2 separate regions of the Homo sapiens genome follow, and region 2 is linked to region 1. The links come from fine-mapping of genetic effects on gene expression. Tissue or cell type: prefrontal cortex. Region 1 holds a variant in brackets; the other region holds the start of a gene. All regions are shown on one strand. Distances are between the middles of the regions.

Evidence for each region.
Region 2: it holds the start of BRPF3-AS1, and the variant in region 1 is fine-mapped to the expression of BRPF3-AS1 in prefrontal cortex (CommonMind, PIP 0.95).

What each region holds. Positions count from the first base shown.
Region 1 is chr6:36,169,150-36,181,153 of GRCh38, reverse strand. It overlaps BRPF3-AS1 (BRPF3 antisense RNA 1), which reads left to right. Exons shown (of 3, transcript NR_187147.1): 2 at 1,447-1,537. Among named protein-coding and RNA genes, the nearest start is that of BRPF3, 22 kb to the left of the region's middle. The variant A/G (reference allele first, on the strand shown) is at 3,973.
Region 2 is chr6:36,188,183-36,200,803 of GRCh38, reverse strand. BRPF3-AS1 (BRPF3 antisense RNA 1) reads left to right here and starts at 3,601. Exons shown (of 3, transcript NR_187147.1): 1 at 3,601-4,767. BRPF3 (bromodomain and PHD finger containing 3) reads right to left here and starts at 4,060. Exons shown (of 13, transcript NM_015695.3): 1 at 3,834-4,060; 2 at 1-507. The coding sequence starts at 481. RefSeq lists an enhancer at 3,306-3,355 and a silencer at 3,706-4,445.

The sequences.
Region 1 (12,004 bases):
TATAGCCAATTGGTCAGAAACTCAGGTTGCACAATGTAAGCACAATCTATGCTTGCAACTTGCATCCAAAGTGGAGAGGAGTCTTGTGGGACTGATCTCTCAACCTATGGGTAGAGAACTCCGGGTGGATAGTGTCAGAATCAAATAGAACTAAAAGACACTCAGATGTTATCTGCTGCAGAACTGATTGCTTGCTTGATGTGTGGGTATAAACCCCCACACATCTGGAGTCACGGAAGTGTTCTGTGTTGTGAGGGTATAGTAGGAGAAACTGAGTTTGTTTTTTTCCATACCAAGTACCCCTTTAATCTTTAATGTGAATAATTGTTTCCCTAATATTAAACCATTCTCTTAGCAATGGAAAATTCTGCTTACAAAAAATATATGTATTAAACCATTCTTGCATCCCTGGATTAGCCTGACTTTCTCATTATTTATTACCTTTTTAAAATATCTCACTGATTTGGTTTGCTAATACTTTAATATTTTTACATATAGGCTCCAAAGTGAGATTGTCTATAATTAGATTGTTTAGGGAATCAAGTTTTATTTACCTCATAAATGAGTCGAGAATATTTTCTCTTTTTCTATTTTCTATAAGAGTTTGTATAACATTGGAATAAGCTGTTTATTGAAAAGTTGGTAGAACTCACTATCTTACTGTGTTTCTGCTGCTGTAACAAAATACCTGACACTGGGTAATTTATGAAGAAATGAAATTTATTTTCTCACAGTTCTGGGGGCTGGAAAGTCCAAGATCAAGGTGCCAGCAGGTTTGGTGCCTGGTGAGGACCTAGTTTCTGCTTTCAAGTTAGCGCCTTGTTGCTGCCTCTTTCAGGGGATGAACACTATGTCCTCACATGGCAGAAGAGATGAAAGGGCAAAAGGAACTGACTAGTTCTTTGGGCCCTTTTATAAAGTCACTAATCCCATTCATGAGGACTCCACTTCATGAATTAATCATTACCTAAAGGGGTTACCTCTTTGTTTTATTATCCCCCCTGTTTTGACACAGAAGAATTACCTACCTCTTAATACTATTATATTGGTGAGACTGCTTCAACTTGAAACAATATGAGTTTTAGGGGACATTCAGATCATATAAATTATTTAATCCTGATGGCTTCATTGTAAGAAGATTTTTATTAACTTCAATTTCTTTACTGGTCATAGGACTTATTTCTTCTTGAAGTATGTTTTCCTAGGATTTTGTTCATCTAAGTTTTAAAAAACTTTTTTTTTCATCTCTGATCCTTCTGTAGTTATGTCCCCCTTTGCATTACTAATATTTTTTCTCCCTCTCTCTTCTCCCCTCCCCCTGCCCCCTGTAGTTTGTCAATTTTATTAGTTTCTTCCCTATGTAACAAGCTTTGAATTTGTTGATCCCCTCTATTGTACTTTTTAAAATACTTTTTAAAAATATCTCATTTTATTTTGTTTTTATAGGTGGTATCTCACTGTGTTATCCAGACTGGACTCAAATTTCTGGGCTCCAATGGTCCTCTCACCTCAGCCTCCCAAGTAGTCAGGACTACAGGTACACACTACTGTGCGTGGCTATTGTATTTTCTTGATTGTTGCTTTAATAATTTTTATGTGCTTCCTTTTACTTTCTTTGAGTTCATTCTTTATTTTCTACTGTCATCGGTTGGGTGCTTAATTATGTCATTTTCAGGTTTTAATTTCTAATATAAGCATACAAGACTATATAAGTTTACCTTGAATTACCACTACTATTTTGTTTCCCAAGTCTTGATACACAGTATTTTTATTATTGTTCATTTCTAAATATTTTTTACACTTTTATTACAATTTCATCTTGGATTGAAGTATTGTTTCAGGAGTATGTTTAATTAAATTTTGAGATAATTATAGATTCACATGCAGCTGTAAGAAATAATAGAAAGAGATCCTGTGTACACTTTACCCAGTTTCCTCCCAATTTGTAAAATTTCTCCTATTTGTAAAACTATAGAAAATATCACAATCAAGATACTGACATTAATGAGAAATCAGCTGTTAGTTTTACCGAGGATCCCTTATATGTGATGAATTACTTCTCTCTCACTGCTTTCAAGATTCTGTTTGTCCTTCGCTTTCAACAATTTGATTATAATGTGTCTAGGTGCAAATCTTTTTGAGTTTCTCGTATTTTGAGTCTGCTGAGCTTCTAAAATGTGTAGATTAATGTTTTTCACAAATTTGGGGAGTTTTGGCCTTTTTTTCTTCCAGTATTCTTTTTAGGTCTCTCCCCTCTGCTTCTTTGATTTATTTTATATGTATGATAGTACACTTCATGGTGTTTCACAGATCTCTGAAACTCTTCATTTTCTTTATTCTTTTTCTCTCTGTTTTTCATATTGGGGCATCTCAATTGACCTTTCTTCCAGTTTGCTGATATTTCTTTCTGCTAGCTTGAATCTACTATTGAGCTCCTCTAGTGAATTTTTCATTTCAGTTATTGTACTTTTCAACTCTGGAATTTCTGTTTGGTCCTCATTTATAATTGTATCTTTGTATCAATATTTTCTAGTGAGACATTATTCTCATGCTCTTCTTTAGTTCTCTAGATATAGTTTTCTTTAATTGTTTGAACACATTTATACTATCCTATTTAAAGTCTTTGTCTAGTAAATCCAACATCAGGGCTTCCTGACAGTTTCTATTCATTGCTTCCCCCCACCCAGCCCCCACGGTGTATAGGTTATTTTTCCTGTTTCTCTGCATATCTTATACACTTTTATTGAAAACTAGATGTTTTAAATAATAAAATGTGGCAACTCTGGAAATCAGATTCCCCCTCTTCCCCAGAATTTATTCTTGCAATTGCTGTTGCTCCTGTTTGTCTAGTTACTTTCCTAAATTAATTCTGTAAAGTCTGTATTCTTTGTAACGTTTGGCCACTATAGCCTCTGCTTTCTTAGCTTAGTGATCAGGTAATAAATGGACAGATATTTTCTTAAATGCTTTGAATTGATAAGTCTCCCAGCCTTTGCCAAAGGTCTGTGTGTGTGTGTTGGGACATATCCATAAAGCTGTACCACACACTAGACAACTCTGCTTTAGTCTTTACTTTCTGCTTGTGCAGAACCTCAAGGTCTGCCAGTGGTTAGAGATTAAGGTCTTCTCAAACCTTTCCTGGGTACGCACATAGTTCTGGGCAGGGATACAGCCTGTACATGCATGTGGTCACCTGTACATGCATGTGGTCATCTACATTTCCGGGAAATCTGATTAAGCTTTCCAAACACACTTATAAACTTCTTAATCCAGCTGGGCAAGGTGGCTCATGCTTGTAATCTCAGCACTTTGGGAAGCCGAGGTGGGCGGATAATTTGAGGCCAGGAGTTCGAGACCAGCCTGGTCAACATGGTGAAACCCCATCTCTACTAAAAATACAGTAATTAGCCGGGCATGGTGCTACATGCCTGTAATCATAGCTACTCAGGAGGCTGAGGCAGGAGAATCACTTGAACCCAGGAGGCAGAGGTTTGCAGTGAGCCAGGGTCGTGCCACTGCACTCCAGCCTGGGCAACAGAGCAAGACTCCATGTCAAAAAAAAAATCTTATTCCTCAGTTTTTCCTTATAATCTTTTTTTCCCCCAAATGTTATCACCTCAGGCACCTGAGATGTTAAACAATTGCCACTAATTGTTTTCCATAAATACTCCAAAGAAAAGGCTGTTCACAGTAAATGAACCCTGAGTCAGTTCCAATAAAGACCAACCCTGAGAGCCCCTGTGGTTTCCAGGAAACTGCCAGACAAGTCAAAGAATAACTAATGGAAGATGAGCATTTAGGGGAACTCCAAGCCCATTCTGCCTGCTTCAGTGACTGCTAGGTTGCTGGTTTTCAGGGTTACCATGATTGAAGGTTGTTGGTTTCCAAGGCTACTATGGAACTACAGAAAGAGGGATGGCAATAGGACAAGTTAAAATGCCACCAGTCTTGCTCTTCTTATGAGATTTAGCC[A/G]TGTGTGTGTGTGTGTGTGTGTGTGTGTGTGTGTGAAAATGCTCCTCAGACTTTTGTGAGCCTTTGGTTAATTTTCAGAGTTCTAAAAATGTTGATTTTAACAATTTTTTGCCAGTGCTCTCATTGCTTTTCTGAAGAAATCAATTTTTGGCGATTTTTACTCCACCATTCTGAATGCAGTTCCAATCATATTGACATTAATACAGTCAAGATACAGAACAATTCCATCACCACAAGGATCTCTTGTGTTGTTCTTTTACAGCCACGTGCATTTCCTTCCTATTACTGTCTTAGGCCCTGGCAACCACTAATCTGTTCTCTATTTCTATAATTTTGTTATCTCAAGAATTGTATAAATGGAACCATGCAGTATATAGCCTTTTGGGATTTTTTTCACTCAGCATGATTCCCTGGGGGTTTATCCAGATCATTGCCTTTATCAATAATTTGTTATTATTGCTAAGGAATAATCCATAATATGGATGTACCACTCTTTATTCACCCACTGAAGAACATCTGAGTTGTTTCTAGTTTAAGGATTTATGGATAAAGCTGCTGTGAATATTCATATACAGGTTATTATATGAATATAAGTCTGTCTTTCTCTGAGATAGATGCCTAGAAGTGTAATTGTTGAGTCATACTTCATTTAGTTTGTTTTTTTTTAAGAAACTGCCAATCTGTTTTTCAATTCAGCTCTACTATTTTACATTCCCACCAGCAATATATGAATGATTTGGTTTCTCTGCATACTTGCCAGCATTTGATGTTGTCAAAATTTTTTATTTTAACTAGAGAGAGTATATGCTAATATTTTATTGTGGCTTTAATTTGCATTTCCCTAATGGCTAATGATATTAAACATCTTTATATGTGCTCATTTGGCATCTAATTGGATTATTTTTTACTGTTGAGTTTTGAGGGTTCTTTTGAGAGTATATTCTGGATACTAATCCTTTGTTGGATATGTGGTTTTCTTCAGTTTTTAGCCTTTCTTTTTATCTTGTCAACAGGGTTTCTGAGAAAGCAACAGTTTTTTAATTTTTTATAGAGTCCAATTTATCAATCTCTCCTTTTATGAATTATGTTTTGGTGTCAAGTCTAAGAAATTGTTGCTAGTGCTAGGTCTCAAATATTTTCTCCTATTTTTTTTCCTAAAAGTTTTATAGTCTTGTTCTTTACACTTAAGTCTGTGATCTATTTTGAGTTAATATTTGTAGAAAGTATGAGACTTACTTCAAAGTTCATGTGTTTTTGTTTGTTTGTTTTGCATATGGATCTTCAATTACTCCAGTGCCGTATGTTGAAAAGGCTATCTTTTCGTCATTGAATTGCTTTTGCACCTTTGTCAAAAATCAGTTAGACATTTTTGTGTAGGTCTATTTCTGAGTTCTCTATCCTGTTATATTGATCTGTATCTCTCCCTCTGCCAATACCACACAGTCATGATTAGTGTAGCTCTATAAAAATCTTGAAATTGGGAAGACTGGTTCCCCCACTTTATTCTTTTTTCCAAATTATTTTGGCTATTCTATTTGTCTTTTCACATAAATTTGGGGACTAATTTTGTGTATTCTACATAAAACCTTGCTGAGATTTTAGTAGAAATTTTATTTAACTTATATATCAATCTGGGGAGTATTGACATTTTTAGAAGTGTGTTTTTAAATTTATAAATACATGGAGAGTTCCTTTCTTTTCTTTCCTTCCTTCCTTTCTTTCTTTCTTTCTTCTTTCCCTTCCTCCCTTCCTTCCTTCCTTCTTTCTTTCCTTCTTTCTTTCTTTCTTTTCTTTCTTTTCTTTCTTTCCTATGGAGTCTCGCTGTGTTGCCCAGGCTGGAGTGCAGTGGCACGATCTCGGCTCACTGCAACCTCCGCCTCCCAGGTTCAAGTAATTCTCATGTCTCAGCCTCCCACGTAGCTGGGATTACAGGCACTTGCCACCACGCCTGGCTAATTTTTGTATTTTTAGTAGAGACAGGGTTTCACCATGTTGGCAAGGCTGGTCTTGAACTCCTGACCTCAGGTGATTCGCCCACCTCAGCCTCCCAAAGTGCTGGGATTACAGGTGTGAGCCAGCACAGACAGCCTTTTTCTTGATTATTAACATCTCATTTAATTCTAGTGTAGTCAGAGAATGCTATTATTATAGCAGTTATTTGAAATTTGCTGACACTTTATGGACTAGTATTTAATTTTTATAAATGTTCCACATGTGCTTGAAAAGAATGAATATTCCCTAATTTTTAGATGTTCTATTGTGTTCTATTGTGTGATCAAAAACTAATCCTGCCAGCCTGGCCAACATAGTGAAACCCTGTCTCTACCAAAAAATATAAAAATTAGCTAAGCATGGTGGCACATGCCTGTAGTCCAGCTACTGGGGAGGCTGAGGTGGAAGAATCACTGGAACCCAGGAGGTAGAGATTGCAGTGAGCCGAGATCGCACCATGGCACTCCAGCCTAGGCGACAGAGTGAGACCCTACCTCCAAAAATAAAACAAAACAAATTAATTGTGTTATTCAAATCTTTTTTATTTTTTTAACCAATTTTTTTGTGTACTTATAACCCCCTATTTTTAAAATTATATAACAAACTTCTTCCTTCCTAATAATGTTTTTGTCTTAAAATCCATTTTCTCTAATATTAATATAACTACCTCAGCTTTCTTTTGTTAGTATTTGTCTGGATTAGTCTTTTTCATCTTTTTGCTTTCAACCTGTTGACTTATGTTTTAAGTGAGCCTATTGTACAGTATATTAATGGACTTTGTTTTTATTTCAAATTTAAGTATCTCTGTCCTAAATGGCACTTTTAGGTCATTAACTTTATTGTAATTATGATATATTTGGCCTTATTTCCATCACCTTGCTTTGTGCTTTGTCCCCTTTTCATTATATTCCCCCCACCACACGCATATACACATTTCTTGTCTCATTTTAGATTTTTGCCAATCTTTCTTTCCTTCCTTCCTTCCCTCTCTCCCTCCCTCCCTCCCTCCCTCCCTCCCTCCTTCCCCCCCATTCTTCCTTTCTTTTCTTTCTTTTGCATATATCTTCTCTCTATTGGTTTGGAAATTATACATTCTAATTTTATTATTTCGTGGTTACCATTAAAATTTCACCATGCATACTTTAAAATGTCTTGAGCTAATCAAATCTGTAAGTCTTCTGAACAACATAGTTTCCCTCTGAGGTTCTGAATCTTCAGATTCAATCAATTGCTGATTTAAAATATTTGAAAAAAATTTGGCCAGGTGCGGTGGCTCATGCCTGTAATCCCAGCACTTTGTGAGGCTGATCACCTGAGGTCAGTTCAAGACCAGCCTGGCCAACATGGTGAAACTCCGTTTCTACTAAAAATACAAAAATAGCCAGGCGTGGTGGCAGGCACTGGTAATCCGAGCTACTTGGGAGACTGAGGCACAAGAATCGCTTGAACCCAGGAGGCAGATGTTGCAGTGAGCCAAGATTGCACCACTGCACTCCAGCCTGGGCAACAGAGTGAGACCCTGTTAAAAAAGAAAATTAGGCCTCAGTAAACCTGATATTTTTAAAAAGAAAAAAAGAAATTGTATAATTAACCACTTTTGCACACCAAATATAAATGGTACAAGTGGGGATGAGGAATTTTAAAATTCATTAAAATGTATAAATATATACCCAACGAGGAAAGAAATATGGGTAGAGGTGACAGTCCCTATTCTGTAATTGCTTATGGGGCTGTGGTTGACATGTATAAATTTTCCTCTCTGTAATTTGTGTCATGTTCCCTTTGCCTTCACAAAAGAACTCAGTAAGTTGGAGTTTCTTACCAAACTCACCTCATAAGAATTACTTCCTTGGTAAATCTGTCTTCAGGGATATAGCAGTCTTCCATTAACTTTTTCCGTTGGATATGGTTGTTTAAGACCTGCTCCAGAATAGCAGACCTGAGTTCTATTAAGATTTTCCTATCCCGAGGTCAAGGCTATAGTGAGCCATGATAGTGCCACTGCACTCCAGCCTGGGTGAGAGAGTGAGACTCTATATCAAAATTTTTAAGATTTCCACATCCCCACTTTGAAGCAGCAGCCTTCTTTCCCATGATGATCAAGATTATTCAGGACCAGTCATCCCAGTCAACATCATGACCTTCTTTATTTTTTTTTTTGCCTGTGGTATAAGAGCCCAAAATGACCAGCAGTGGAAACATTGTTTTGTCTTCTTATAGAAGCAGTTATCTCTTGGATCCCCAAATGCCAAGTCAGCAGAGCCCCAAGTCATGGAGAGGAGAAGCAATAATTTGATGAGTAACAAACACATTAGACTTAATCATGAAAGATACTATCCCATTTCCACCCCATTGTTTCCATACCTGTACATTCTAATTACAGGAGAAGCCACACATACGCATACATTGGTTCATGATTCAGAACATATAATATATCCTGCATGCCAGTGCCCCAACCTCATGAGGTGTTGTCCCAATTGGAGGCACAGCTGGCTCTTCAGCAGGGCATTCTGCTATTCTCTAAGGCAAGCTGCCAGACTAGGCATGGTGGGAGCATGTGTTACTTATATTCAGACAGCTTATTGTATCTTCAGCTATGGCTGGAGCCTCATTCTGTATTTTATACCTCTTATAGCTCATGTTAAAATGTTGCATAGAATGCCCAACTTCATAGCTAGGTAGCTGAGACAACTCACAGTGGGCAGTTTTGATCTTAGCACTTGGACTCCCCCAGATCCCCAGAGCAAGGCTAGAGCAGTTTTCCAAAATGAAAATAATCACTTGCTTATGAGGCAGCGGCTTTGCTCCATTACTTTAGGGGCCTCCACTGCAATTCCTATTGAGGACTGTCACAGATTTCCTATCGCATTCACAATTGCCACTCATTTATGGAACACCATTGGATCCACGGGCTCATAAATGCTAAGGGAAGGAGCTTCCTATGTACTTCTGCATTATTTCAAGAAACTTCTGGCACCTCAACTTAGTGTGTTCCATTGTCAAGTGAACACCAGGTGGTTCTGGGTTTTGGTTAACCAGCTGAGCAAATTGTTAGAACTATTCCCTGCTGCTAGTATAATGAGTCCAAAATCATAAGGACATCCGCATCAGTAAATTCAGTCCCAAACTAAAACTATGTTCCTCCTCATTTGGTGGGCAGACACAGAATCCAGTTCTGCTATAAATGGGCAATATCCCTATATTTATTTTTGTGTGTAAAGCTTTTCCTAGGTTTGACTTGAACTTATATCTCTAAAAGCTTACTGGGATTTGTCTTTAGTTAGAGAGGATTGTCTTCCTCTTACAAGGAAAGGGGATAGATATGTTTTCGAACAAGGGAGAGACAGCTTCATCAGATAAGGGAGGAGAGAGAGACTTCTTCAGTGGGTAATGAAAGTGGAAGTGAATGTTGAGGCTAAACACAGGAGGGTAGTTGAAATAACAGCCCCTTCTACCCAAGTCCTAGCACAGACAGCACAGAATATTTTTCTAAAAAGAATAGAACACAAAGTCTGGAGGCAGCTAGTGTGATGTCGGCACCTCACCTAAAGCCCTCCTCATTCTGGAATTTGAGAACTTCATTGTAAAGTAAGATTCCTGCACTTTACCCAAAGCAATATAGGCCTCCCATGTACAGGGTCCTCAGTGAGATGTCTTCTTTTCTATTTTCACAATATGAGTAGAAAGCCAAAGATCACCAGACATTGAGAAAGGTCTATAGCATACAACTGGAAAATCAAAATTAAAAAAAAAAAGAAAGAAAAAAATCTGACACCAGAGACAATTCAGGAAATAGGTTAGAAACAACAAATAATTCATATTCTCAAAGATACAGCTTTTTTTAATTTAAAAAAGAATTATAATATTGTGAAACTAACAAAGAACAAGAAATAATTCTTGATAATTAAAAACATGATTGCTGATTTTAGGAAGATGATGGTAGCATAGTTTTTTTAAAGCAGCTTTATTGAGGTATACTTGGTATAAAATCATCTGCACATGTTTAAAGTATATAATTTATAAGCTTTGACATATGTATATACCCATGAAACCATCACAATCAAGATTATGAACATACAGTCACCTCCAAAAGCTTGCTCCAAAAGTTTGTAATTCCTTTTTTTTTTTTATTCCTCTGCCTCCCTGCCTGGTAACCAATGATATTCAAATGAAATGATATAGTATTACTATTTTGTCTGGCTTATTTCACTGAGTATAATTACTTTGAGATTCATCCATATCATGACATGTGTCAGTAGTTAATTCCTTTTCATCGCTTAGTAGTATTCCATTGTACGGTTATACCACAGTTTATGCATTCACCTGTGGATGCACATTTTGATTGTTTTCATTTTTTGACCATTACAAATAAAGCTGCTATGAATGTTTGAGAACAAGTCTTTATGGGCATATGTTTCCTTTCTCTTGGATAAATTCCTAGCAGTGGAATGGCTGAATCATATGGCAGGTTTATGCTCAATTTTTTTTTTCTTTAAGAAACTTCCAAATTGTTTTCCAAAGCAGTTTTACCATTTTTACATTCCCATCAACAGTGCATGAGAGTTCTAACTTTTCTACATCCTCACCAATACTTGGTATGGACAGTATTACAAAAAACTTTTTGGGACAGGGTATCACTCTGTTGCCTAGGCTGGATTGCAGTGGTGCGATTATGACTCACTGCAGCCTGGACACCTAGGCTCAAGTGATCCTCTGCCTCAGCCTCCTGAATAGCTGGGACTACATGCACCACCATGCCTGGCTAATTAAAAAAATTATTTTTTATAAAGACAGGGTCTCACTATGTTGCCCAAAGCGGTCTCCAATTCCTGGGCTCAAGCAGTCCTCCCTCCTTGGCTTCCCAAAGTGCTAGGATTATAGAGGTGAGCCATTACATCCGGGTACTATTTTTAATGGTTTAAAGCAACTTTATTGAGTTGTTATATAACTTACATACCACAAAATCCACCCATTTAAAATATACAGTTCAGTGACTTTTTAGCATCACAGAGTTGAGCAATCAACCTGACTATCTAATTTTAGAATTTTAGAAAAGGCCTCATCCCCATTAGCACTCACTTCCTACTCTGCCCTCTCCCTGACTCCATCTCCCATTCTAGGCAATCTCTAATCTGCTTTCTGTCTCTAGATCTGCCTATTCTGATTTCATGTAAGCTGCATCATACAATATGTGGTCTTTTGTGCCTGGCTTCTCTCATGTAGCATACTGTTTTCAAGGCTCATCCATGTTATTGCATGTATCAATACTTCATTCCCGTTTTAAACATTTTTTAAATTTTGAAATAATTATAGATTCACAGAAAATTGCAAAGATAGTACAGAGAGGTCTGGTGTACCCTTCATCCAGTTTCCCCCAGTGGTTACATCTTACATACTTACAGTACAGTGTCAAAACCAGGAATTTGACATTGGTAAAAAATAAAATGGTGTGCACCATTTTATCACATGTATAGATTCATATAACCACCACTGCACTCAACATACAGAACTATTCTATCACCATAACGCTCTTCCTCATTACTGCCCTGCTCAACATCCCTAAGCCCTAGCAACACTAATCTGATTTTCATCTCTATAGTTTTGTCATTTCAAGAAGGTTATATAAATGGAATCACACAATGTGTGAGATTGGCATAATGAATTTCCCCTAGTGTTCAAATAAAGACAGAATAGATAGTGAAACCAAAACCATGTAGATGATACTTTTAAGAAAACTAGGTGACAAACCCAGAAAATATCAGGGAGTGGGCCAGAACAACAGCCCCAAACCTACACAGTATCAGCACCTGTGTGAGAGGAAGCAGAGGAAAGATGGTGTGCCTGGGGGACCTGAGAAAATGAGAAACACAAAATGTTCCCAAAAAAGTATTACTGGAAAGTGAACTAGGGCATTCTGAGAACAGCCACAGAAACCAGGAGGAGTTCTGCTCACTCCACTAGCTGGCAAGTGTAAGGCCATCCTCAGAAAAGTCTGAGAAGGCTGTGAAAGTACAGCACCTTATTCTCATGAGACTGACCT
Region 2 (12,621 bases), 19 kb before region 1:
GGTCCTCCTCATCCATGTCATACTCTACCTCTGCATCCAGGTCTTCAGGTGGCTTCTCAATGTAGCGGTAGTAGGCAGCAGGCAGCGGGGGTGCTTCTGGCTGGATGCCTGAGTCCACCATACGGAAGCTGGGCTGTGGGAGGTGGAAGGAAGTACCAGATGCATGCTTGGAGCAGGATTCCTTCTTTTTGCCCTTGGATGAGGGTTTCTTGGACTTGCCAGGGAACTGAGGCTGTTCACTGTTTTCCTTGTTACTATTGCATTCGGTGATATCCTGGGCAGTTAGCTCATCTTCAGTAATGATTTTGAGTGGGTCATAGATGCTGATACGATGCAGGCGTCCATCAATGTCTACCTCGACAATCCGCTGGGCCTGGGCATATGTCAGGGTCTCCCGGGTGGGTGAGCACTTGAGACTGTAGGGGGACGGGGAACGCCGGCCCTCGGCATTCTGCCGGGACTTCCGACGAGGCTTCCTCATGGCACCTGGGAACTGAGGGGACAGGCCTAAGGAGAGAAGGCCAGGAGACTATGAGTTGGATGCCCTTATGCACCCATTCATCCTCCCATATGATCAAGCATCCACCAAGAGGACTGGCTTTTCCCTCTGTCTGAACAACTTGCCCCTCAGGCATCCACATGGCTTGCTCCTTCACTTCCTTTGAGTCTTTCATTTCTTCAAGTGAACAACACTTCTCAGTGAGACCTTCTCTGACCACTTTATCTAAAATTGCAAATCCTTTTCCTCCACCAGCAATCTACCTTTCATTCTGCTTTATTTTTCCCTTTAACATTCATCATCTTATACCATGCTACATAATTTACCTACTACTATGTTTATTGTTTCCTTCCTTCCACTAGAATATAAGCTCCATGAGGGGAAGAATTTTTGTTTGTCTTGTTCACTGCTGCATCCCCAGTTCCTGGAGCAGTGCTTAGCTCCTAAGTAACCACTCAATAAGTATTAGTTGAATGAAAGAAGAAATCAAACACACATGATCCCTGCCCTCAAGGAGCCCTGTCTAACTCAAAAGACAGAAAAGTAAACAGATTATTACAGTGTAACATGGGGAAAGATCTAATGTTCTAATGATGTACATAAAGCTGGGCGACAGCTAACTATGGAAAACACATGTAGTTAACGGTTTAGAAAAGAAAACAAGAAAAGCATCCACTGTCAAGCTCTGTACGTGAACAATGGGCCCCATCAGAGGATCAAAAGTCACTAGAGTCTTCTCCCAATACCTCTTACCACGATCAGAAACCCTACTCCTTGACCCTGCCTAGAGGTGAAGGGGTGAAGGCATCTGAAATATCTATGATACATGGTCTAAGGGCTTCAAACTACAGTATGCAGGGTATTCCCTACAAAAGACACCATCCAGGACAGCAGTCCCCAGCCTTTTTGGCACCAGGGACTGGTTTCGTGGAAGACAATTTTTCCACAGATGAGGGTGGGTGGTGAACACTGTTCCACCTCAGATCATCAGGCATTAGTCAGATTCTCATAAGGAGCATGCAACCTAGATCCCTCACATGCGCAGTTCACAGTAGGGTTCGCGCTCCTATGAGAATCCAAAGCAGCCGCTGATCTGACAGGAGGCAGAGCTCAGGTGGTAATGCTCGCTTGCCCGCCACTCACCTCTTGCTGTATGGCCTGGTTCTTAACAGGCCACAGTCTGCGGCCTGGGGGTTGGGAACCCCTGATCCAGGATACACCAACTAGTACATTTCCAGGCAGAAACAAACCCTAGAAGCTCTGAGAGTGGCTCCAAGAGATCTCTGAAGTTATAGTGGCCTGTCTAGGACCTTCATTCGACCGAAGGCCAAGATGATCTGGGCAGTATCTGAGGTAAACTCTCAATGCATTCTGTTACCTCAAAAGTCTCTCCCAGAACACTCATATCTAGTCTATCCTTGTACAGCCAAGAGAAAGTCCTAGTTTCCCCCATCATTCTCTGGATGACAAGCTCATAAGGAGCTGCGGTAGGCAGTTACCAAGGCTGTCACCACCAGGAGAGACCTTTGGGGATACAGGGCCCCATGGTGTGGGCAGACTTGGAAGGATATGAACAAAGAGAAGATTTCAAAGAGAAAAACAATTCATCGCCTTGGTTGCAGGGTCTACCATCTATATAAAGTAGAGACGGTGATAATAAAAGCACTTTTTCCAAACTACAAAGCCCTCTTACTTTTAATATTTCTCACAACTACCTTAGGAGATGGTGTAGCTATTATCATCTACACAGAAGCTCAGAAAGATGTCACTCAACGTAAAGCTAGTAAGTGATAACGCTACAATTTGAACCCAGGTCTTCCGATGCTCAATTCCTCTCAGTGGGAATTAAGAACACCACAGAGGTGCTATGGTCTGGTACAAAACGAGGCTCTGGGGCAATCTAGGTTCTAATCTTGGCCCTCTGTGACCTAGAGAAAGTCCCTTAAGCTCTCTATGCCTCCATACTCCATCAGTAAAATGAGGGTAACACAATCTAGCTCTCTAGGTGCTACTTGTTAATAAGGTATTATTAACATCTTTACTTGAAAGGCCTTCCAATCCCAAAGTGTGACTGAAACAAACAAAAAACCAATTTGGCTGAGGAGCAGTGCCAGGCGGGCTGGCACACACCCCATTTGGAGCCAAAGGAAACAGAATCATCGCAGCAATTCTGTCCGGGTTCCAGAGGCCCTTGGCTACTGGATTCCTTACAAATGCCAAGTCCCTGGGGGCAGACAGGGCCAACAGACCTGCTTCATCACCCACCCCTCCAAAGGCACCGAGGCCCTAGAAGAGGTGAGAACATCTGCCTCCACACCGACCCCAAACAGCGCAGACAGGCGGTGCGGCGCCCACTTTCATGAAAGCCGCTCCATCTTCTCCTTCCCCACCTGCCACCTCCTCGGCTGCTCAAGCATCTCTCGACCATGCAAGACTCTACACAGACGTGTTTTGTCCCACCCACGCCTCCAGACACCGGGGAGAAACTCTAGAGGGGGAAGGGACTGCTGATGAGGGAAATGAAAAGAGTTTCGCCCACAAGGAGCTTACAGTCTAGACGAGTTTTTTGGCGGGAGTTTCTCAACCTACACAGCCCTTCCCACATACACACCTCCAAAATATCTCCAACAACCCCCGCCCCCCCAGATTTCCCCTCGGCACCCCCTGACCCCTCGCTCACCCACCCCATCCAGGTCCCCGAAGAATGAGGAGCTTCTGCAATTAGACTGTATCCCCTGCACCTCACACAAGATACTCAGGAGACAAGGAGGACCCCAGCCAAGGCTCCTGCTCCTTTAAGGGGGCACCTCTTCCAGAAGAATCTTGACCCCTCGGAGAAGAAAGGAGGGAAATAACATCTCCTCAGAGGGGAGGGGCGAGCGCACCAGAGACAGCCTGACGTGGAGTCCGACCCTCAGACAGAGAAAGCGAGCGCCAGCGAATGAGCGGGGCGGAGAGGCGAGAACCCATTGGCTGCGTCACCTGCCCGTCAGAGGGACCCAGGGGACCTAGGGCCGCTCAAGGGGCGGGACTCTCGTCTGGCCAGGCCAATTGGAAGGCGTGGCGGGGGCGGGGCTTAGCGGCTCGGAATCCAGGGCTGGGGGGGGAGACAAGATGGCGGCTGCGGGAGGGGGTCCTCGCTTCTCAGCTCCCCCGCTCACCCGCCTTCTCCTTCCCTGCCGCCGCCCTCGCTCCAGGAGAGAGCTTTCGCACCGCCCCCGCCCTGCTCGGAAAGCCCCCCGCTTCTCCGGTTTCCCCCCGTGCAGTCCCTGGTCCCCGAAGGCCCCGATGCCCCCGCCCCCGCTCTGTCCGGCCCCGCTGCCGCCCCCATTACCTCAGCCGCCTGCCCGGCCCCACCGTTCGGGGCCCCTGGGCGCGGGCGGGCAGGCCGCCGAGCAGGTCGGCGCGGCCCGGGAAGCGGAGCGCGGTCTTCTCCCGCGCCTGCCTCCGTGGCCTCCGCCGTGCCCCCTCCCGGCCCGCGCTGGGGCCCCGGCCCGGCCGCCGCCGCCGCTCCCGGGGGAGGAGGGGGAATGGAGCCGCCGCTGCTGCCGCTGCCGCCACGGAGCCCGGCCGAGGGGAGGGAGGGATCAGCCCCCAGGCAGGATCCGCCCCTCCGGCCTCCCCCCGCCACCTCCACCCCTTCCCTCGCTCCCTCCCTGACTCTGCGGGCTCTCCCGCTGAACAGGAGCGAGAGCGCGAAAGAGGGGGAAACGGGAAAAAAATCCCCCCGCCCGTGCCTGGCGCGGCGGCGGCCGGGGCGGTGCGGAGAGGAGCGCGGAGGCGCCGCCGCCGCCGCCACGGGGCACCATCCCCGGCTCGGCCTCACGGTGGCGGTGCGGGCGCGGCGGGGACACCGAGCAAGAGACCGGGTCTGCGCCCGCCGCGATCCCTGCGCACCACGGCCCTGCCCGCCACGGGGCGAGCCCGATAAGAGGGCTGTGGACGTTCGGGTCTAGTTGGGAGAGACAGGGGTCCCTGACTCTTGAGCGGTCAGTCATTTCCTCCCCAGTCCTTGTGGGTGACGTGGCTACGGTTTGGAGCAGCAAGCCCCCTCCCCGAACTAAAGGGCCTCTCCAAAGGTTAAGCCAGGGCAGTCATTGAGGTCAAAACCAATATGTAGTTTCTTGACTGCAGGTGCCTGCACGACTCCCAGAAAGTCGCGTCTCCCCTAACCCCCATGCCCAGGACCTGAGGACAAAGGTCTAGCGATTGTCCATCCCCTCCCCCAGTGAGGACAGCCGGGAAAGACCTGCCTTTGTTGTGTACAGGTGAGCGTCTTGTTCCGCACCACACATCTTTTAAAAAAAAAAAAAAAAAATCTGACTTTCCGTTTAAAAGGAGTAAACAAAAGTTTGACAGTCTGCTTAAGCATGCCTGGTAACTCGTCTGTCACTGTGGGCATGGGAAACACTTTAAACCTGACTTGGTTAATTTAATGCATTAGGCGGCTTTCTAAAAGATGCTTGACAAATGGCAGCATCAGACCAAACTGGCTTTTGTTTTGATCTAAAAAAACAAAAAAATAAAGAAAAGGGCTCCATTGCCACCCCCTTTTGCCTGTAAACTGGAAAGCTTACCTCATGTGACTGAAGTCTTAAGCACCAATACATAATGATGTTTATAAAGGACGTATGGATAAGCTGCCTGTAAATGTGAAGGTGAGTGACAGTTTGAAAGTGTTTCCTCTGCTGGCACTTGTGGTGTAGCTGGTGAGACTCAATTTCTTTCTTGGTTCTGATGATCAAGGACATGTATTCTAGAGTCAGAAGGATGAAGGATAAAGTCTTAGGATCCAAATTTTCTGAATGTTTAAAGTGAACATACTGCTACTTTGGAAGTATAGATGTTATACTAAGGAATTTAAATATAGAGAGTTTCAAATTCAAAAGTTTGATTAAGGAAGCTAATTTGTTTCCAAGTAAATAGCATCTTCTGGCAAAGAGATAGTACAAAAATGCTTCTGTTAACCAATTTTTTAAATGCAAGGGGGGTGGCTCGTGGAGCTAAGCAAGGGCAGGACAATGTTTTGAAAGCTGTGAAGATGAAATAGTATGAATTAATGTCAAGTGTTCTGAAGCTAGGGGGAATAATCATTTGGAGGGAAGGTGTGGAAGAAAAAGATGATTAATTGTGGAAGAGAAAGCCCCAGAGGCAAGAAAATATTGCAATTACAGTACTTGTAGTTAAGAAAAAAAAAGTCTGAAAACTAACAGAAACTATTAAAACATGAAATATAATAATCATTTATACATATGACTAGTAACTTTTATTTCTTGATGGATGTTCTCAAAATTTATTTAGCACAATTCCCATTTGCGTGATCAGGAGCTATCTTTTTCCACTAAAATGAATGAATAAATACCTTGAGAAAATGCATTGGTTTCTACTTGTAAGTCAACGATTTAAATGCTGTTGAAAAGGCCTTAAGTCAACCTAATGCATGTGATTTTTTTCAGGTTTTTCTATTCAAAGCTTTCATATTAAGACCTTATTCAACCTAAGTGTTTCTCTTCCATTTTCAACTTCTACTTTTTTAATGATATCATTACAGTTGCCCTCACTTTAATTTTTGACATTTGGAATTGGTTTCTACAAGCATAACTGCACACGTAACCAGTTCCCTGTGATGGAATCTTAAATGTAACATGGAACAATTATGTTATTAAAAACAAATTTGGAACATATATCAAAAATCTCAGAGGCACTAAATTTAATTCACTTTAATCGTTTGCTATTTTAAACGGTTTAAATTCACCACCCCTGGCCTTTCCAATAAACCATACAGCAATTAAATTCAACAAACAGAGGCATGGATCTTTGATTCCAAATAGTTGTTTTTAAGAACCTTCCAGCTGTAAGTAGAAACCAACTTATTTGGGATAGGAGAAGGTTTTACCATTTAAAACTAAAAGAAACATGAATACAAAAAAAAATCACCATTTCCCCACCTCTTTCTTTCATACTTCCCCATCATACTTTTTTTCAGCATCTCAGGATATCTTTGTTAATGCTTCACTATTGTCATTAGTTTATCAGGCCAAGAAACCTCTCAGGGGTCAGACGCAGTACCCACTGGATTAATAACGTGGATGATAAGGAAAAAAATAGGCCTTGATTGATTGTTAAATTATTTTTAATAGAATATTCCTTCCTTAGATACTTGACTAAAAGAATTCTGAAACCACAGTTGGGAGGAATGTTTGAGGTTGGAATCATTGTGATACTTTTTTTTTTTTTTTTTTTTTTTTTGAGACGGAGTCTTGCTCTGTCGCCCAGGCTGGAGTGCAGTGGCGGGATCTCGGCTCACTGCAAGCTCCGCCTCCCGGGTTCAAGCCATTCTCCTGCCTCAGCCTCCCAAGTAGCTGGGACTACAGGCGCCCGCCACTACGCCCAGCTAATTTTTTGTATTTTTAGTAGAGACGGGGTTTCACCGTTTTAGCCGGGATGGTCTCGATCTCCTGACCTCGTGATCCGCCCGCCTCGGCCTCCCAAAGTGCTGGGATTACAGGCGTGAGCCACCGCGCCCGGCCGATACTTTTACACTAATTAAAATGGTTTAAGAATGTAAAGTTTGCTTGGAAAATGGGAAAAGTTTAGCTAGGTTAACAACAGGTCTTAAATAGAGTAACATACCACACTCTCTAGATTTAATTCCATTTATGTATTTCTAAAACGTATTCATTGACCACTTAGAGTGTGTCTAATACTGCACAAGTTCTTTGGAAAATAATGACAAAATCTCAACCTAGAAAGGGACTAATGATCATAAGTATAGATAGAATATATTTTTTCTTGCCTTGAGTAGTGTGCAATCCAGAATGGTAGAAATAAGTAGAAAACACATACAAGAAAAAATAGATAAGGCAGTGAAGAGTATGGAGCCACCATTATTCAAAGAAGGCTTCTTGGAGAATGGGAGACTTCTTTAAGCCAAGTTCTAAATCATGATGGATGTGAACTGGTGAAAAGAGTGTAAAGTGACATTGGGTTGGTGACAGGACAGTCCAGGCAAAGGGAAAATATGCAGGGAATAATGCGGAAATTATCCTAGCTGGTATGTATGGGCAGATGATAAGAAAAAGATTGAATTGGGTAGGAGGTATGGCAAGGGGACAGGGATAATAAAAATAATACCTAACACTTATGTACAAGGTACTGTGCTTAGTGCTTTATATACTCCATTTATTAAAGATCTTTGTTGCAGTTAGCAGAAAACCAACTTAAGTGAGTTTAATAAAGGAAATAAACTCTCATAACCAGAAAGTCCAGGGGTGCATCTAGCTATAGACAAGATCGAGTCAAAGGACTCGAATTATGTCATCAGCATACTGTATCTTGCAATTTCTCAGCCATCCTGAGCCAATAACTGTGGCCAGAGGGACATGCTGCTTGTCATGTATCAACTCCTAAAACCAGAGGACATGAGCAGGAGAAGATTGTACAATGGGGTAGTAGGTACATGTACAAACTAGGTCCAATATGCACACCATATCTTATTTATCAACTTACTAACTCTATAAAATGTTACTGTTATCCTCTTTATGTATTGGAGAAAGTAGAACAGGAGATCCGGTAAACCTGGAAGAGTTTACTATAGGTAATTAGGCATTATGAAAATAAAAAGGCATTAAGCAGAATGATGGAAAATGTGTTAGAGAAAGAGGAAAAGGAAAGGTCAAATCAGAAATCAGATGACAAAGCAACTGTTTTGTCTGATTGGACATAAGAACAAAGGAGAAGATTGAAGAAGAATCTAAGTTCAAACTTTGTAGGTTCTCACAGTTTGGTACAATCATTGCAAATTAAGAGGTGGCAAAGGGTTGCTCGGGAGCTCCTATTGGAGGTGGGAACCTGAGGATTGAAGAAATGATGAAATCAGCTCAAGTTCTCTGGAACCTCTTTTGGTCACACTGAAATACATATTTATTCAATTACTATTTGTGAGCTGCTGGTAAGGTTCTATTTTATGGCTGTAAAGGCCACAAAGGTGAAAAGAGTATGCTTGCAGACTTGAAGGCATTTAGATTCTAATCACAGTATAAAGCAAGGGTATTTATAACTGGAACGTGCTACAATATAAGCACTTCAAGAGAGATGCAAACGAAGTGCCAAAGTTTGGAGGAGGGAGTGAGCTCGTCTGTTTAGGAGAAGAGGGAAGGCTCTGTGAAGAAAGTGCTATCTGAGCTCTACCTGAAAGCTCTCAGGTAGGTGTGTCAGCTAGAAAGATGGTAGAGGGAGTGTGGTCCAGGCTGAGCCACCCGCATGAGCAAAGAGGAAGAACGTATCAAAGAATAAAATTTCAACAAATGAGTCCCAAAGATCCAATTGGCTTTATTAGCTGTTTATGAACTGGGCAACATCCAGTCTACAAAATAGAAAGGAGTTCCTATGAGCTAAACAAGTAGGTGAGTTTTATAGGCAGAAAGAAGTGAAATAAATCAGGAACAATGAGCAAATAGCAGATTGGTCTTTTCAAGATTATTTTTCTTTATAGGAATGTAAATGAAATCTTGTTGGTTTAATGGGATTTGACTATCATCTCTCTCCTGATTTCTTGAAGAGTCAGATCTTACAGTAAAATACAGGTTTTGGTTTGGTGTCATGGAACCTCTCAGCATGAATGACTCCATTTGGGGTCTGCTGTCTTTTCTTTAACACATGGAATGCCATAAGATTGTTTCAGGAAACAGTGGGTTACCCATTGACCCAAAAATGAGGGATATGAGAGAGAAGGCTGGTAAGGTAAAGTCAGAGCATGGAGACTGTTGGTTGGGTAGGGAGCTAGACATGAAGGGGCAGGAGACCCTGATGATTTTTGGAACAGGGAAATGACTTCAATAGTTCCATGCTTTAAGTTCTAGTCAGGCAAGAGAGTGTGATACGGTATGGTTTAAATTAGCTATCCAGTGTGGCTTGCATTATCTTCTGAACTTGAATTCTAGCTAGAACATTTTACCATATACTCAGTGGAATGCTAAACCAAGCAAGCATGAAAGCAAGTAGTATGTGACAAGTATAAATTGTTCAACTTGATCTAATGTCTTATCTTTTCAACCTTTAATTAGGATTTCTATTAAATCCTAAACTCTTAACTGTGAGTGAAGCCAGGACACTATAAAATATAATTCCATATTTTAGCAGAAGTACCAACCCTAAAAGTAGCCATCTTCTTGGCATAATTTTACTAAAGGGAGAGAAAATACACAAAAATAATAGCACATACTAAACTAGAACCTGCATTTTGACAAGATTTCCATAAGTAATTTATATGCATATTAAAGTTGAGAAACAGTGAATTAGAGGATTTTAGAGAATTCCAGGATTAAAATACTCTGAGAAAAAGGTAAAGTTAAAGGATTAATATTAGCTTTTGATTACTCCAGAATACCTATAATAATAAAATACATGTTTCCATTTATATGAAATTCTGGAAAATGCAAACTGCTCTATAATGATAGCAGATTGGTGGCTTCCTGGATGTGAAGGGGAGGAGGGACTATAAAGGGCATGAGGAAACTTTTTGGAGTGATAGAAACATTCTGTAAGTTGATGGCAGTGGTGGAGAAACAGGTATATATACATTTGCCAAAACTTAAACTGTACAGAGTAGCTGTCTTTTATTTTACATAAATTTTACCACAATTAAGTTGATAAAGCATACCTGTTGCAATTTTTAGACTAATCATTAACATTAAAAGAATGAAAAAATGAGGATGTAACTCACAAACTAGTACAGAGTAAAAAAAGAATAAAAAATTCGACCAACCTAAAAGAAGTCAAGGAAAGAAAAGGAAATATAGTAAAGGTGAAACAAATAGAAAACAATGAAATGATGGCAAATTTAAATTCAATTTACAATTTACATTGTACATTGTAGAAAGAGTAGTCCACAATGAGTGGGACATTTCTGGAAAAGTTTAATGATTGCATGGTTAAAATAATGTCTGGCTTGACAACATGCATTGGTCCCCACTCCCTCCCCTAACTTCAATAATGTTAGTAAAGGATAAAAAAATCCACAAGACAATGAAATCCACAAGAACAAAGAGAATGAGGGAAAACAACAGCAGGTGAGATTTACTATCTCAAGAAATTGAACTAAAGAAGTTCTAGACTTGGGGCCACCAGGAACCAATGAAGACAGCGATGAAGTGTCATACTGAAAACGGAAATTAAAGGGAATCTCTGCATACTAAATAATAAGATGCTCCCCCGAGCCCCAATCATCACCATCACATGTTCTTCCCTAGACTGATGAGGGAGGGGAAATCTGGTACAAATTGCTGGAATCTGGTGGTGCAGAAGGGGGCTAAGAGAAAATTTCATGAAAACATTTCTAGTCAGTCCATCCTTTTAGTTGAAATAAATGTTTCATAGATCAAAATTCTTAGTGGTCCTGCCTCTTCCCCCAATCACATTGCAAAACACTGGAAGCCAGGTTTATTTTAGAATTTTGCTAGTGTTTGTTTTTGTTTTTTGAGATGAGGTCTTGCTCTGTTGCACAGGCTGGAATGCAGTGGTGTGATCACAGCTCACTGCAGCCTCAACCTCCCAAGCTCAAGCGATCCTCCCACCTCAGCCTCCTGAGTAGCTGGGACTACAGGGACACAGCATCATGCCTCGATAATTTTTTTTAAGAGACAGGGTCTCACTTTGTTGCCTAGGCCGGTCTTGAACTCCTGTGCTCAAGCAGTGCTCCCAACTTGGCCTTCTAATGTGCTGGGTTCGTAGACGTGAGCCACCACCCGCAGCCAGAACCTTGCTACTTAGATTATTGTTCAAGAACCGATAGTATTGACATCTCCTGGGAGTTGGTTAAACATGTGGAATTTTAGGCCCCACTCTAGACCTACCAAACCAGAATCTGCTTTTTAAGATCTCCCTACATGTTTCATATGCATATTAAGATTTGAGAAGCAATGGATTACAGAATGTTAGAGAATACCATGATTCCTCTCTGAAGATGGAGAAAAGACCTATTTATGAATACTGGCGATGGAACATCTTCACTAAAACATCCAGCTTGTCACCTTTTGCCTTATGCTGAAGCTCACCTGGTATCAAGCATTCCCCACCCCTACCCCAACACACATAGAGTTTTAAACAGCTTTAAAAAAAACTACCTCTTAACATTGAATAAACAACCAAAAACCAACAGATATATGAAGAAAGTATCATGAAGGTCAGAATCCAAGAAAAAAGAATGGGGAAAACAATATAGAGAACCAAAGAAGTCTTAACAAACAAACAAAAATCTCTAAGAGCCTCAAAGAGTAGCTGGCTGGGGTGATGGTTCATGCCTAATAATTCCAGCACTTTGGGAGGCCAGAGTGGGAGAATCGCTTGAGGCCAGGAGTTTCAAACCAGCCTAGGTGACATAGCAATACCCTGTCTTCATTTAAAAAAAAAAAGTGCTGGGCATGGTGGCTCAGGCCTGTAATCCCAGCACTTTGGGAGACCAAGGTGGGCGGATCGCCTGAGGTCAGGAGTTTGAGACCAGCCTGGCCAAAATGGCAAAATCTCATACCTACTAAAAATACAAAAAATTAGCTCGGCGTGGTGGTGGGCACCTGTAACCCCAACTACTCAGGAGGGTAAGGTAGGAGAATTGCTTGAACCAGGGAGGCAGAGGTTGCAGTGAGCAGAGAGAGTGCCACTGGACTCCAGCCTGGGCAACAGAGCAAGACTCCATCTCAAAAAAAAAAAAAAAAAAAATGGGGAGGCCAGGCACTGTGGCTTACACCTGTAATCCCAGCACTCTGGGAGGCCAAGGTGAGTGGCTCGATTGAGCCCAGGAGTTCAAGATCAGCATGGACAACATAGAGAAACTCTGTCTCTACTAACAAAAAAAAAAATTAGCCAGATGTGCTGGCATGTGCCTGTGATCCCAGCTAGTTGGGAGGCTGAAGCGGGAGGATTGCTTGAGCCCAGGAGGTTGAGGCTGCAGTGAGCCAAGATCGCACCACTGCACTCTGGCCTGGGTGACAGAGACCTTGTCTCAAAGAAATAAAGATAGCAAGGGGAGGGGAGAGAGAGAGAGAAAGGGAAGGAGGAAGGAAAGGAGGAAGAAAGGACAGAAAAGAAGGAGTCAGAAAAGAGCAAATCTTGAATATTAAAAATGT